2 separate regions of the Homo sapiens genome follow, and region 1 is linked to region 2. Evidence: fine-mapped expression QTL. A gene starts in region 2. The other region holds a variant in brackets. All regions are shown on one strand. Distances are from middle to middle.

Region 1 (5,364 bases), 80 kb after region 2:
TGCTTCTCTGCAAAGCCTCTCCCAGGACAGATCAAAGAGACCCACTAAGTATATTAAAGAGGCCATGAAAATCAGGCTGGGTGATGCTGTGTCTTGGGCAAAGCTGCCCCCAGCCACCTTGGGCCCTGGGCTTAGGGATTGGCTGGGATTTCCAGGCAGGCCTGGGAAGATGGAAGTCACTTGCACAGCAAGGAGATACCATGTGCTGCCTTCTCCTCCATGCTGGGCTCTGGGATCTGCACAGCTGAGTCAGGAGTGGGCTCTGCTCTCCTCGGGAGCTCACGGTCTGGCCCAAGGTGACCCAGGCTGTGACTACCCAGCAGGGCCAGTCAGGGTCTGGATAGGTGAGGAGTACAGCCTGTGGGTGCTGTCCTGGGAGCCCCCAGCCTTCCACCAGGGTCCGGGGCTGGGAGAGGCACCTAGTAACCGGCTAAGAAGGCCCTGTGGAAGCAGGCAGGCTGTCAGTTCCCTTGGGCCCAGACGTCCTTGGCTACAGATCCACATGGGCACTTGGGGGCTGGAAGGTCTGACCCCCAAGGGCTGCACGCCAGCCTGAGGTGGGGCTCGGCTCAGAGGCTGCATGGCCCAGCTCTCGGTGAGGGGACCCATGAATTTGGCCAGTTCTGGGAGGGGCCAGGTGAGGGGGCTGATTCTCATTGTGCTCTGATGCACATCATCTGCCCCATTTCACAGATGAGGAAGTAGAGGGGTCCTCCCAGGGTGCTCAGGAGTCATAGTGCACAGCGCAGAGTCTGCTCAGGAGTCACAGTGCCCAGGACAGAGTCAGCTTTTCCAAGTGGGCTTTGACATTTTTACAATGACTGTCCCCTTTCCAGATCTGTAGGGCAGGAACCCCGTCACCGGCCTGCCCTGTCGAGTTGGGCATCACCGGCCCCCGGGTGTCAGTTGCCTCTGACTGTGGAGGTGGGCCGGGTGAACTGGAGGTTCTCTTCTAGGGCTGGCTTCACTTAGCAGGTGACCTAGGATGCTCCAGACCCCTGGGTGGGGCTGCCACTCGAGGGGTTGGTTCCATGTGCTGGGACATGGGGCTGGGCTGAGCTGGGGGTTTTCCTGGATCTCCTTCACCACTCACATCTACCCACCCTGCCTGGTCCTGGGCACTACCACCTGTTGGCAAAGCTGAGCAGGCCAGGGGAGGGCAGGTGGGTGGGCAGAGCAGGACCCTGGAGCCTAAAGCACTGAGTGATGCAGGGGCCAGCCGGGCTGAGAAAGCTGGGACAGCCACTCAACTGGAACCGACTGTAAGCTCCCTCCAGGGTCCCTGAACATGCCGGCATCCTGGAATCTTGGGAAGGATGGTGTTGGGGATGCTGCTGCTGTGTGAGCAGTGCTGGAAACCAAATTTCAGGCTGTCAGTGCTGTCTGTCACCAGCACCACTATGGTTAACCTCACACCCAGAGGCCTGACTCCGTGTGACCATCTGGACCGGTACCAGGTCCCAAAGGCAGGCGTGTCTAACTCAGCATCCCCCTAGATGTCAGCAAAACAGGCGGTGAAGCTCTGGAGATGAGCAGCGTGGGCTGGCTGCGTCCCTTGTGTGCAGGGGCTTTGTACCCTGTGTGTGGTCTTTGCATTCCTCAGTTGGTGGGGCTCTGGCTTAGGGCCCTGCTGTTGGCTGGGTGCCTGTAGGGGGTGCCAGGCATCGGGTTAGGTAAGGATGATGTGGCCTCTTGCGGGGCGGTTGTGGGTTGGCAACCCTCCTGCAGCCTCATCTTACACGTCTGTGAAGTGGTTCGAGTGACTGAGGCTGCTTGGCTAGATCTCACCCGCAGTCGGAGGCGCCCCTCTGGGAGTCCTGGTTTCATTATCTCTACCTTTAGTGCCCTGTGTGTCCCTCCTGAATTTTGTGCAGATCCATTTCAGAAGTCTCATTGCCAAAGGGATAAGTGACCCCTTTATGATGAGGGAAGCGTGGCCAGTGGTGGGTGGGACTTCTGAGATTCTGCCACCTCTGTGGTCCTCAGAGATGGAGAAGGTCACCACCCTGTAGTGCCTGGAGGGTAGGGGGAGGGGGCGGTAGGGTATTGTAGGAGCCTGGAGTCCTAGAGGGAAAATCCACCTGGGCATGTGTGGTTCCTGAGCTCACAGGTGGGGTAGGAGGTAACCAGGAACAGACAGCCTAGGGGTCACCTGTGGCCTTTCCACATCCATGCCCCAGCCTCTATCCGCACCTGCTCGTGTTGGGCACTGGGCAGGGCTCCTGGTACAGGCTGGCTGGAG[C/G]CCCTTGGGAGATTTCCAGGAAAGAAGTGTTTGTGGAATCCCCTGTGCCAAGAGCAGGTCCCAGGGCACAGTCAATGGAGATATCTGAATGGGTAATGTATGAGTAGATGAATGAATATATCTTCTGACCCCTGGGCGGGTGATGCTGGGATATGTTCATTTGCAGATGGGAAAAAAATGGTTTCTCAGGACTTGAGCTGTCACACAGGTGCTGGGGGAATGTATTAGATTTGTACCTCATTCTCCTCTTGGGAAGAGCTTAGAGGCCATCTTGTGTCACGTGTCCAGCATACATGCATTTTCTATGTTCTTTATTGTATCTTCTACATACAATCTGTAGACATGGTGTGTACTACTAAAACGTGCAGTCTGCAGCATATACATAGGTGTGGCACATACACAGCCTGTGTCATGTGTGTTCTACAGGCGCACACACTGCATAGACAATATTTGCTGGTGAATATGGGTGCGCTGTAGTTATATGTGCCTCTTGGTCTAATCTATCTGTATATAGTGTGCTACTATGTCACATGTGCCGTTATTCTACACATTAGGTTCCAAGTGTACACTGTGTGTACTCTGAAGTCTTCATAGATGCCATGTATGTGTGTTCTGTACAGGTATTTGGGAACATCTGACATGTGGACTTAATATTCGCAGGCCTGTTTGTACACAGTACCTGCAGTGTTCTATCATAAGCACATTTGTTAAGCAGACCAGGGGAAAACAGATAGTGTAACAGGGTCTCTGCAGGAAATAGCACTCTCACACTGAATGATTAATAAATGGGCTATTTATAAATTCTTCTCGAACACGTAGGCAGGTTTGGGGGGAAGCAATGAGGGGTATGTGGAGCACCAGTGGAGAGCTATTAACATGCCAAGGGTGCAGTTCCTGGAACTTGTAGAGAGTAGCTGCTGTAAGCCCGCTGACAGATGCGGCTAGTTGCCGAAGTCGCCCTCCTCTTCCCTTCCTCTGATCTACTGGGGCTGTCCATTGGATGGACCCAACTGGAAACCAGAGGGCAAAGGGACCCTTGATGTAGCTCCCAGGGTAGAGAGCAGGGTGTGGCTGGGAACGCCTAAATAGGACAGTGGAGGATACCCTGTACCACCTTCTTTTTCCTAGAAGGCCTTGGGAGTCCCGAAACTTGTCTCTCACTTGAGAGGGAATGGTCCTGTTCCCCAGACCACTGGGACCACAGGAAATGTGTTAATGGGGAAGACCCCTGAACCTCAGCGCTGTTCATCTCCCATACTCTCTCATGCACGTGTCTTACCAAGGGATGTCCTCGATGCAGTGGACCAGTGAGAAACACTATGGTGTGTCAATGATCAAGTTCTTTCATGCTGTAGTAAGACGGCAGGAGAATTGACATAAGCCTGAGACAGGACATACCAGTGTACTGCTGTCTAAGCCCCGTGAAGGCAAACTGCTTATTTTTACTAGCAGGAACAGAAGTCAGGGTGGGGGACCCTGGCACCTGGTATGCAGTTTTTGACCCAGAAAATGCCATGGTGATTTCTTCCAGTAAATATATCACATGTGGAACATTACCACTTAATAAGAAGTTTCCAACAACCTCCTGTTATTCTCCAGCATTCCAGCTGGCTTTTTTTGTATCAGCTCTACAGGTGAGCTATATGGAGATATAGTAGGATTCCCACCCCTGCATCTTTTATATTTACCCTACTTGTTTGCCAAGATGTGCCTTCTTTCCTGAAGACTTAAGTTTCCATATGGTGTCCTTCTCCCCAGACAGAGCAGCCTTCAGTAATCTTATTGTGTAGATATGCTGGTAATGAACTCTCTTATAGTTTTACTTCATTTGAAAATGTCTTTGTTTTGCCTTTCTTGAAGGATAATTTCTCTGGATATGGAATTTTCAGTGAGCAGTCTTAGTTCTTTACAGCCGTGCTTCCACTGCTTCCTGGCCTCTGTTGCTTATGTTTAGATGTAAGCAATATTATATTATTGTTCCCCTGTATGTGGTATATTATTTCTCTCTGGCTACTTTCATTATCTTCTCTGACTTTAAGCAGCTTGACTCTGGCGTGTGGTTTTCTTTGTATTTGTCCTGCCTGGGGTTCACTGAATTTCTTGAATCTATAAGTTTGTGTCTTTCATCAAATTTGGCTATTTTTTTTTTTTTTTTGAGATGGAGTCTCGCTCTGTCACCCAGGTTGGAGTGCAGTGGCACAATCATGGCTCATTGCAACCTCCACCACCTGGGTTCAAGTGATTCTCCTGCCTCAGCCTCCTGTGTAGTTAGGGCTACAGGTGTGTGCCACCACACCTGGCTAATTTTTGTATTTTTACAAAATTAGTAGAGATGGGGTTTCACCATGTTGGCCAGGCTGGTCTCAAACTCCTGGCCTCAAGTGATCCATCTGCCTTGGCCTCCCAAAGTGCTGGGATTACAGGTGTGAAGCACTGCACCCAACCTAAATTTGGCTACTTTTGGCCATTATTTCTTCTTTTTGTCTGATTCTCTTTCCTTCTGGGACACCTTTTGATATTGCCCTACAGCTCCCCCCAGGCTTTATTTTCAATCTTCTTTATTCCTCTCTGCTCTTCAGATTGGATAATTTCAATTGATATATCTATTATTTCAGCTTCTCTGTTTCCCCACCCTGTCCTTTCTGGCCTAACTTTGTCATATCATCTCTTCTTTCATAAGGACTAAGGGGTTTCAGAGGGGTGTCAGAGCTCAGCGCTAGCTGGGATTGAGGGCCAGAGAGGATGGGGGGAAGGCCTTCTGGAGGCAAACATGTGATGTCATTTTTCAAGTGAGAGTTTGGCCCATGGGGGTAGGTAGGTTATGGCACATATTCACACCACCGGAGACAGACAGACTGAGCCACAGGCAATGAAGCCCTGATGGAGAAGTGTGAGCTAGAGCCGTCAGAGGCAGCTTCATGCAGGAAGGAGCGGCAGAGGATCCTGGGGTCTGGTAGGTCCCTACTGTGTATCAGACTCTTGGCTCGGAGCTGTCTGATCTCGGCGGATCCATACAACGCCACCTAAGAACAATTATGCCATGTAACAGATAAAGACACATGGGTTTGAAAAAACTTATGGAACCCAAGGTAAAGCAGCAAGCTAAGTGACCATGAACATGT
Region 2 (5,364 bases):
CTGTCCTTTTGGAGCTCCAGGGCTCCAGGCGGGATTCAGGAAGCCGAAGGTCAAGGAAAAGCCCCTCGATAGCCTAAAGGGAGAGGGCGGGGAGGGGGAGGAGGTAAAGGAGGCCAAAATGGGAAGGAGATAAAGCCTGGAGAGGGCTCATCTGGAAGCAGGGAATAGGTGCGCCCCAGCCCGAGCCTCGTGTTCCTACCCCAGGTGGTCTCGAGGGGGCTATCGCGTGGCTCAGGGCTGCATCCACGGCGCACCTTGCGCCCAGCTGTGGGGAACCAAAGAGTGATTATATATATCAAAGAGTGATTATATATATATATATATATATATATATGTGTGTGTGTGTGTGTGTGTGTGTGTGTGTGTGTGTGTGTGTGTATTTTTTTTTTTTCCTTCAGTAAAGCAACAGAGAGGTTACTGGGTCGGGGGATTGCGATGTCTTTCCCCGCTGTCCTGACTCCAAAAGTGGCGGCCCATGCTGTCCTTAGCGCTCTCCAGGGAAACGACTCGGGTCTGCAGGTGCTGGCCCAAGCGGGCTGTGCCGCTGGGAGGCGAGGGGGCCGAGGCAGCCCTCGGGACCCCACCACTCCACGAGGCCATGTCCCTGGCCAATGACACGCTCCCGCGCCGGGTGGCTAGGTGGGGGGTGGGGGGTGGGGAAGACTTCGTGAACCGCTGCTGCCGCTCTCCTGTGTGCCCATGGCCCCCTCCCCTTCTGCTCCCCACTCTCTGCCCAATCTGCCTGAAGCTGTCAGCCTGCCATCTCTGGCTGAATCCCGTTTTCCTCCTCCAACCCCGAGTCCCTCAAACTCTCCACCCGCCAGGGCTGCTTGCGCTCTTGGGGAGCGGGGCTAGAAGGACCCAAGAAGCCGCGTTTATCCTCCCATCCCCCGCCAAAACCCGCCGGCGGCTCCGCCCCCGCCCCCTCCCTGGCGGCTCAGGCCGCCCCTCCCGGGCTCCCTCCGCGTGCGCCCTGCGCCGCGCTGGGTCTGCAGCGGGAGCTGCCACAGCAGCCTCGCCAGCTGGCTGGGGACCAGGCGGGAGGTGGCGCGCCCTGGAGGCTGCGGGAGGGAGGGAGGGAGGGAGGCCCGGCCTCGGCGTAGCCCGGCCCCCGCTCCCCGAGGCCCTCCCGCCGGAGCGGGGCTGCCAAGCGCACACACACACACACACACACACGCACATACACACGCGCACACACACATTCGGGCTCCCAACGGCGCGCACGCACGTAGCGCCCGGGGCAGACCAGCGCGGCGGCCGCCTCCCGGGACGCCCGGACGCCGGAGGGCCCCGACCCCCGCGCGGCTCATGCGCCCGCGTCCGCCCCGCTGCTCCGCGAGGCCCGCGGGACCCCTCCCGCCGCCGCCGCCGCGCCCGCCGCCCCCGGAGGAGCGGGCTGGCCGACCGCCACCGCGCCGTCCCCCGGCCGCCCCCGAAGCCGCTCCATCGCGGTCCCTGCCGTCCTGGGGCCGCGCCCCGCTCCCGCGCCTTGGGGGTTGAGCCGAGCAAACTTCGCGCACCGGCCGACGCCCGGCGGGGACCCCGCTGCGCACCCGCGCGCCCGGGTGGGCGCTGGGCGCGCGGACCTTTGGGGAGCGGGCTGCCCCTCCCGCTGCACCTGCTCGGCCCCCTCCCCGCTTGCAGGGGACTCCAGAGACACCGCCACTTCGCAAACTTTTCCTCCCCACCACCGAGAGGGGGCGAGGAGGGGTAAAAGGGGAAGCAGGTTCCGCTGGGCGCGCGGACCTGCAGGCTCCTTGCTGGGCACCGCCACCCGCGAGCTGGACCCACAGGGGTACCGGGCCCCGCGGCCGCCCTCCGGCCGCTTTCTGGCTCCGGTTCCCGTCCCTGCGTTTCCCGCGGGAGCGGGGGGCGGGGTGCGGAGGGCAGCAAGGCCCGCGCGGTACCCAGCGGGGCCGCCCTGCATGGCCCTGCGCAGTGGGGCGGGCTGCTTCGGCCGGGTCTGGCGCAGGGTGTCGGGGTTCCCGGACGCCTGGCCCCGGCGCTCGAGCAGCCTCCTGTGCCTGTCCGCCTTCTCGGCTGAGCCCGGGCCCGCGCCGCCCCTGCCCCGCCAGCCGCCTCGCGGTGGCGGTGGCTGTGGCGGCCCCAGCGGAGGGGGCCCCCCCCAGCCTCCCCGCCCCCCGCCTCCCCGCTGCTGCTGCTGCTGCTGCCGCCGCCGCTTACAACTTGGAGGCGGCGGCGGCGGCGGCGGAGGAGGAGGCGGCGGCGGCCGCCGGGCGCTGCAGTGGGACGCGCGCGGCTGTGAGCCTGCGGGACATGCCCCCCGCGCCGGCTCCTTGCTGGCGGCCATGAAGAGGCAGAACGTGCGGACTCTGTCCCTCATCGTCTGCACCTTCACCTACCTGCTGGTGGGCGCCGCCGTGTTCGACGCCCTCGAGTCGGACCACGAGATGCGCGAGGAGGAGAAACTCAAAGCCGAGGAGATCCGGATCAAGGGGAAGTACAACATCAGCAGCGAGGACTACCGGCAGCTGGAGCTGGTGATCCTGCAGTCGGAACCGCACCGCGCCGGCGTCCAGTGGAAATTCGCCGGCTCCTTCTACTTTGCGATCACGGTCATCACCACCATAGGTAAGGGCTGGGCGCGCCGCTGGGCTCCCGCGCCCCGGGAGGAGTCCGGGGAGGCGGCTGAGCGCGCCGCGCCGGGCTGGGTGCAGGGCGTCGAGGGTTAAACGCAGCCTCCCTTGGGGGCCTTCCCGCAGCGCCCCCTCCTCTCTAGGGAGCCCCCCCTCCGCGGCGCCTCCGAGCCTCACCCTTCGGGGACCCCACCCGGTGCTCTCCACCGCGCTGGTGTCTGGGCCGGGCGTGCGAGCCCCGAGCGAGTGTGCCTGAGCCGGGAGGGCGGAGGCGCCACTTTTGCGAAGAGAGTGGAGCGCTAAGAATAATCCCATAGCAGACACCCACCCACCCACCGCCCCGGCGCGGGCTGGGCTGCGCGGGGCTCTGAGCCTTACACTTACTACCTCTCTGGGAGTTGGAGAGGGCTGGCCTGGCACCCATGGCTCCTAGAGGGACTCAGGTGGCAGGGGAGTGCGCCTGGGGCGTGAGAGGCACTGACCCTCCGTAGCCCCTGGGCCCCGCTCCAGGCTTCTCTGAGCTCAGATTTCATCTCTCTTCCCCCCGCCCGGCTCCTTTTTTCCCCTGAGTTCCAGTTCTGGAGCTTGGACTTCCCAGGCCCCTGGGAGGAGAGAGTTTGCTCTCTGGTGCTTGCGTTGGGGGTGGCAGCCCCTCAATTGCTCTCAGTAGAGGTGGAGAGTGGGGGCAGGGCAGAACCTGCCCACTCCCTAGGCTGTGACACTGGGAAAGGCCAGTCTAGACATTGCCCAGAAACCAGGGAACTTGAGCCCCAGTCACGAGAGGGGGTCCAGCTGGTAAACTGCAGGGATGCCCGCCAGCCCCACTGCCAAGGGCGCTATTCACAGAGCAGGGTCTCTGGTCGGTCCCGAGGGCAGTGTCCCCTCTAAGGCTGGGGGCTGGGAGGACTCCCGGACGTTATACTTGGAGACCTGTGGGAGCTGGGGCAGGTACCTTCATTCGGGTGGACGTGGTGGATACCCTGCATGGCAGGAGGCAGGGTGGTGTCTCTGTGGTTCACTTGCCCCAGTGAGGCAGGCTGCCTCTCTAGGGCCATCTCCTTGGACTTGCCAAGGCCAGTGTGTTAGTGGGGGTGGTCTGTTTCCTGCACCCCTCAGGGCTTCACACCCCTGTGCCCTGGGCAGGGACCTCCTCCTTCCCCCCTCCCTTCTTCCCAGCTCCTCCTGTCTCGCTTCTCTGGACCTCCTCCTCTAATTTCCCTCTTGATATTTTTCTTTGTCTGGAAATCTCTGCATACTGAAAAAAAAAGGATTTCTCAGTGCCATATGCAACAGGAAGCGCCAGCACAGGACGGCCTGTCTTTCCTTCTTGGTTGAAAATACTTTTTAGAGAGTCATCTTGTTTTAAATGTTTAATTCATTGGTGCAGGTTTTTCTGTTTGTGAAGGAAATTGTCCTTCTGTTATCTACATAATCAGCTTGGCTCTTGCTTGCCCCACGCCCTTTGCCCAGCACCCCAAACACAGATGACTCCTTCCCTTCCCACACTGTGTTTCCAGCTTCTGAGAGGGCCAGTCATTGCCATTTTCTCTGGCTTTAAACTGTGGCAGTGGCACGCAGATGCACAGGGCAGTGATTCTGGGAGACAGGGGCCTGTTTGCTGGAGAGCTGGAGAGTAAGAAATATGCCTCTGAAACTGGCCACCCCTGGGGAAAGGAGAAAGCCCCAAGGCCCTTAAACATGCCTTTAGGGTTGAAGATGGAAGACAGGTGAATTTGGCTAGCATGCTGGCTTCCAGTAGTAAAACAGGCACATAAAATGCTTGGCTGATCCCGAGAGTTGAGCGACAACATCGAGGAGAGGATTGGTGTTAAAAGCAAACTCTGAAATGTGCCAGTTTTCCTTAAGAAATGCATTGTGGAGACTGATGAAGTTCTTACTGAGGTGTGTTTCCATGGTTGATTCTGATTGGTAGCTCTGGGTGTATGCCTGTAACGGTTAAAACTCCAAAGAGAAGCTGTCAAGGGAAGTGTAGCTAAATGGAGGGTGTCGGCTTCGCCTCAGGGGCTGTGGGACTTGTATGAATAAGGGACCAGAGGCCATCTGAGGAATTCGCTGATTTTCCTCGCTTCCTTCTTTGGGCTTTCCACTGATTTTCTGGAAAGAAAGGTTGGGAAAAAAATGTGTGTGTGTGTGTGTGTGCGCGCGTGTGTGTGTGTGTGTGTGCGCGCGCGCGCGTGTGTGTGTGTGTGTGTGTGTGTATGTGTATGTGAATAAAAGACAGCTCTAACACTAACACAGCTGTCCTGTTGTGGAAAGATGTTCAACTTGGAACCCACAGACCTGGCTTGGAATCTGAATTCGGCCATAGTGTAAAGACCAGAGAGAGGTCATTTCCCAACTCCTGACCTCAGTTTCCCCACCTGCAGAAGAGATGTCTCACAATAACTACCTGACAGGCTGACTTTTAAGGTCCAGCTGAGATCCCGCGGGCTGCAGCTGCCAGGCACAGTGTGGCCGGCACTTAGTAGGAACGGAATCCACGCTCTTGGACGAAGCCTGATCGAGCCTCCGCTCTCTGCCCTAAGAAGCTGTTTAGCACAAGAGTTCAAATTTACAGGAAACAAAGCACCTTTCCAGTTAATTCTGTTTGTTTTTTTTTCTTTTTTTAATATAAATGCAAATTAAGATGCTCCTAGGCCTAGAACAAAACCCGGCCCCAAGCCTCGCCCTCCAAGGATTTGTCTCCTATTGGGCAGTGATATTAATGAGTCAGGTTAATCTTCATTGGCGTTTTGATTTTTAATCT

Which allele goes with the higher level. Alleles are on the strand shown, and positions count from the first base shown. SD is a standard deviation of normalised expression in the study named.
For the expression in cerebellum of the gene that starts at base 2,179 in region 2, allele C in region 1 goes with a higher level than allele G (small effect, 0.27 SD a copy in GTEx).

Evidence for each region. PIP is the estimated chance that this variant, and not a neighbour inherited with it, causes the effect.
Region 1: its variant is the best candidate, but not a certain one, in a credible set for the expression of KCNK9 in cerebellum (GTEx, PIP 0.69).

The regions. Positions count from the first base shown.
Region 1 is chr8:139,620,324-139,625,687 of GRCh38, reverse strand. The region is part of intron 1 of KCNK9 (potassium two pore domain channel subfamily K member 9); the gene reads left to right. Among named protein-coding and RNA genes, the nearest start is that of KCNK9, 80 kb to the left of the region's middle. The variant C/G (reference allele first, on the strand shown) is at 2,243.
Region 2 is chr8:139,699,938-139,705,301 of GRCh38, reverse strand. KCNK9 (potassium two pore domain channel subfamily K member 9) reads left to right here and starts at 2,179. Exons shown (of 2, transcript NM_001282534.2): 1 at 2,179-2,592. The coding sequence starts at 2,310. RefSeq lists a silencer at 2,162-2,456.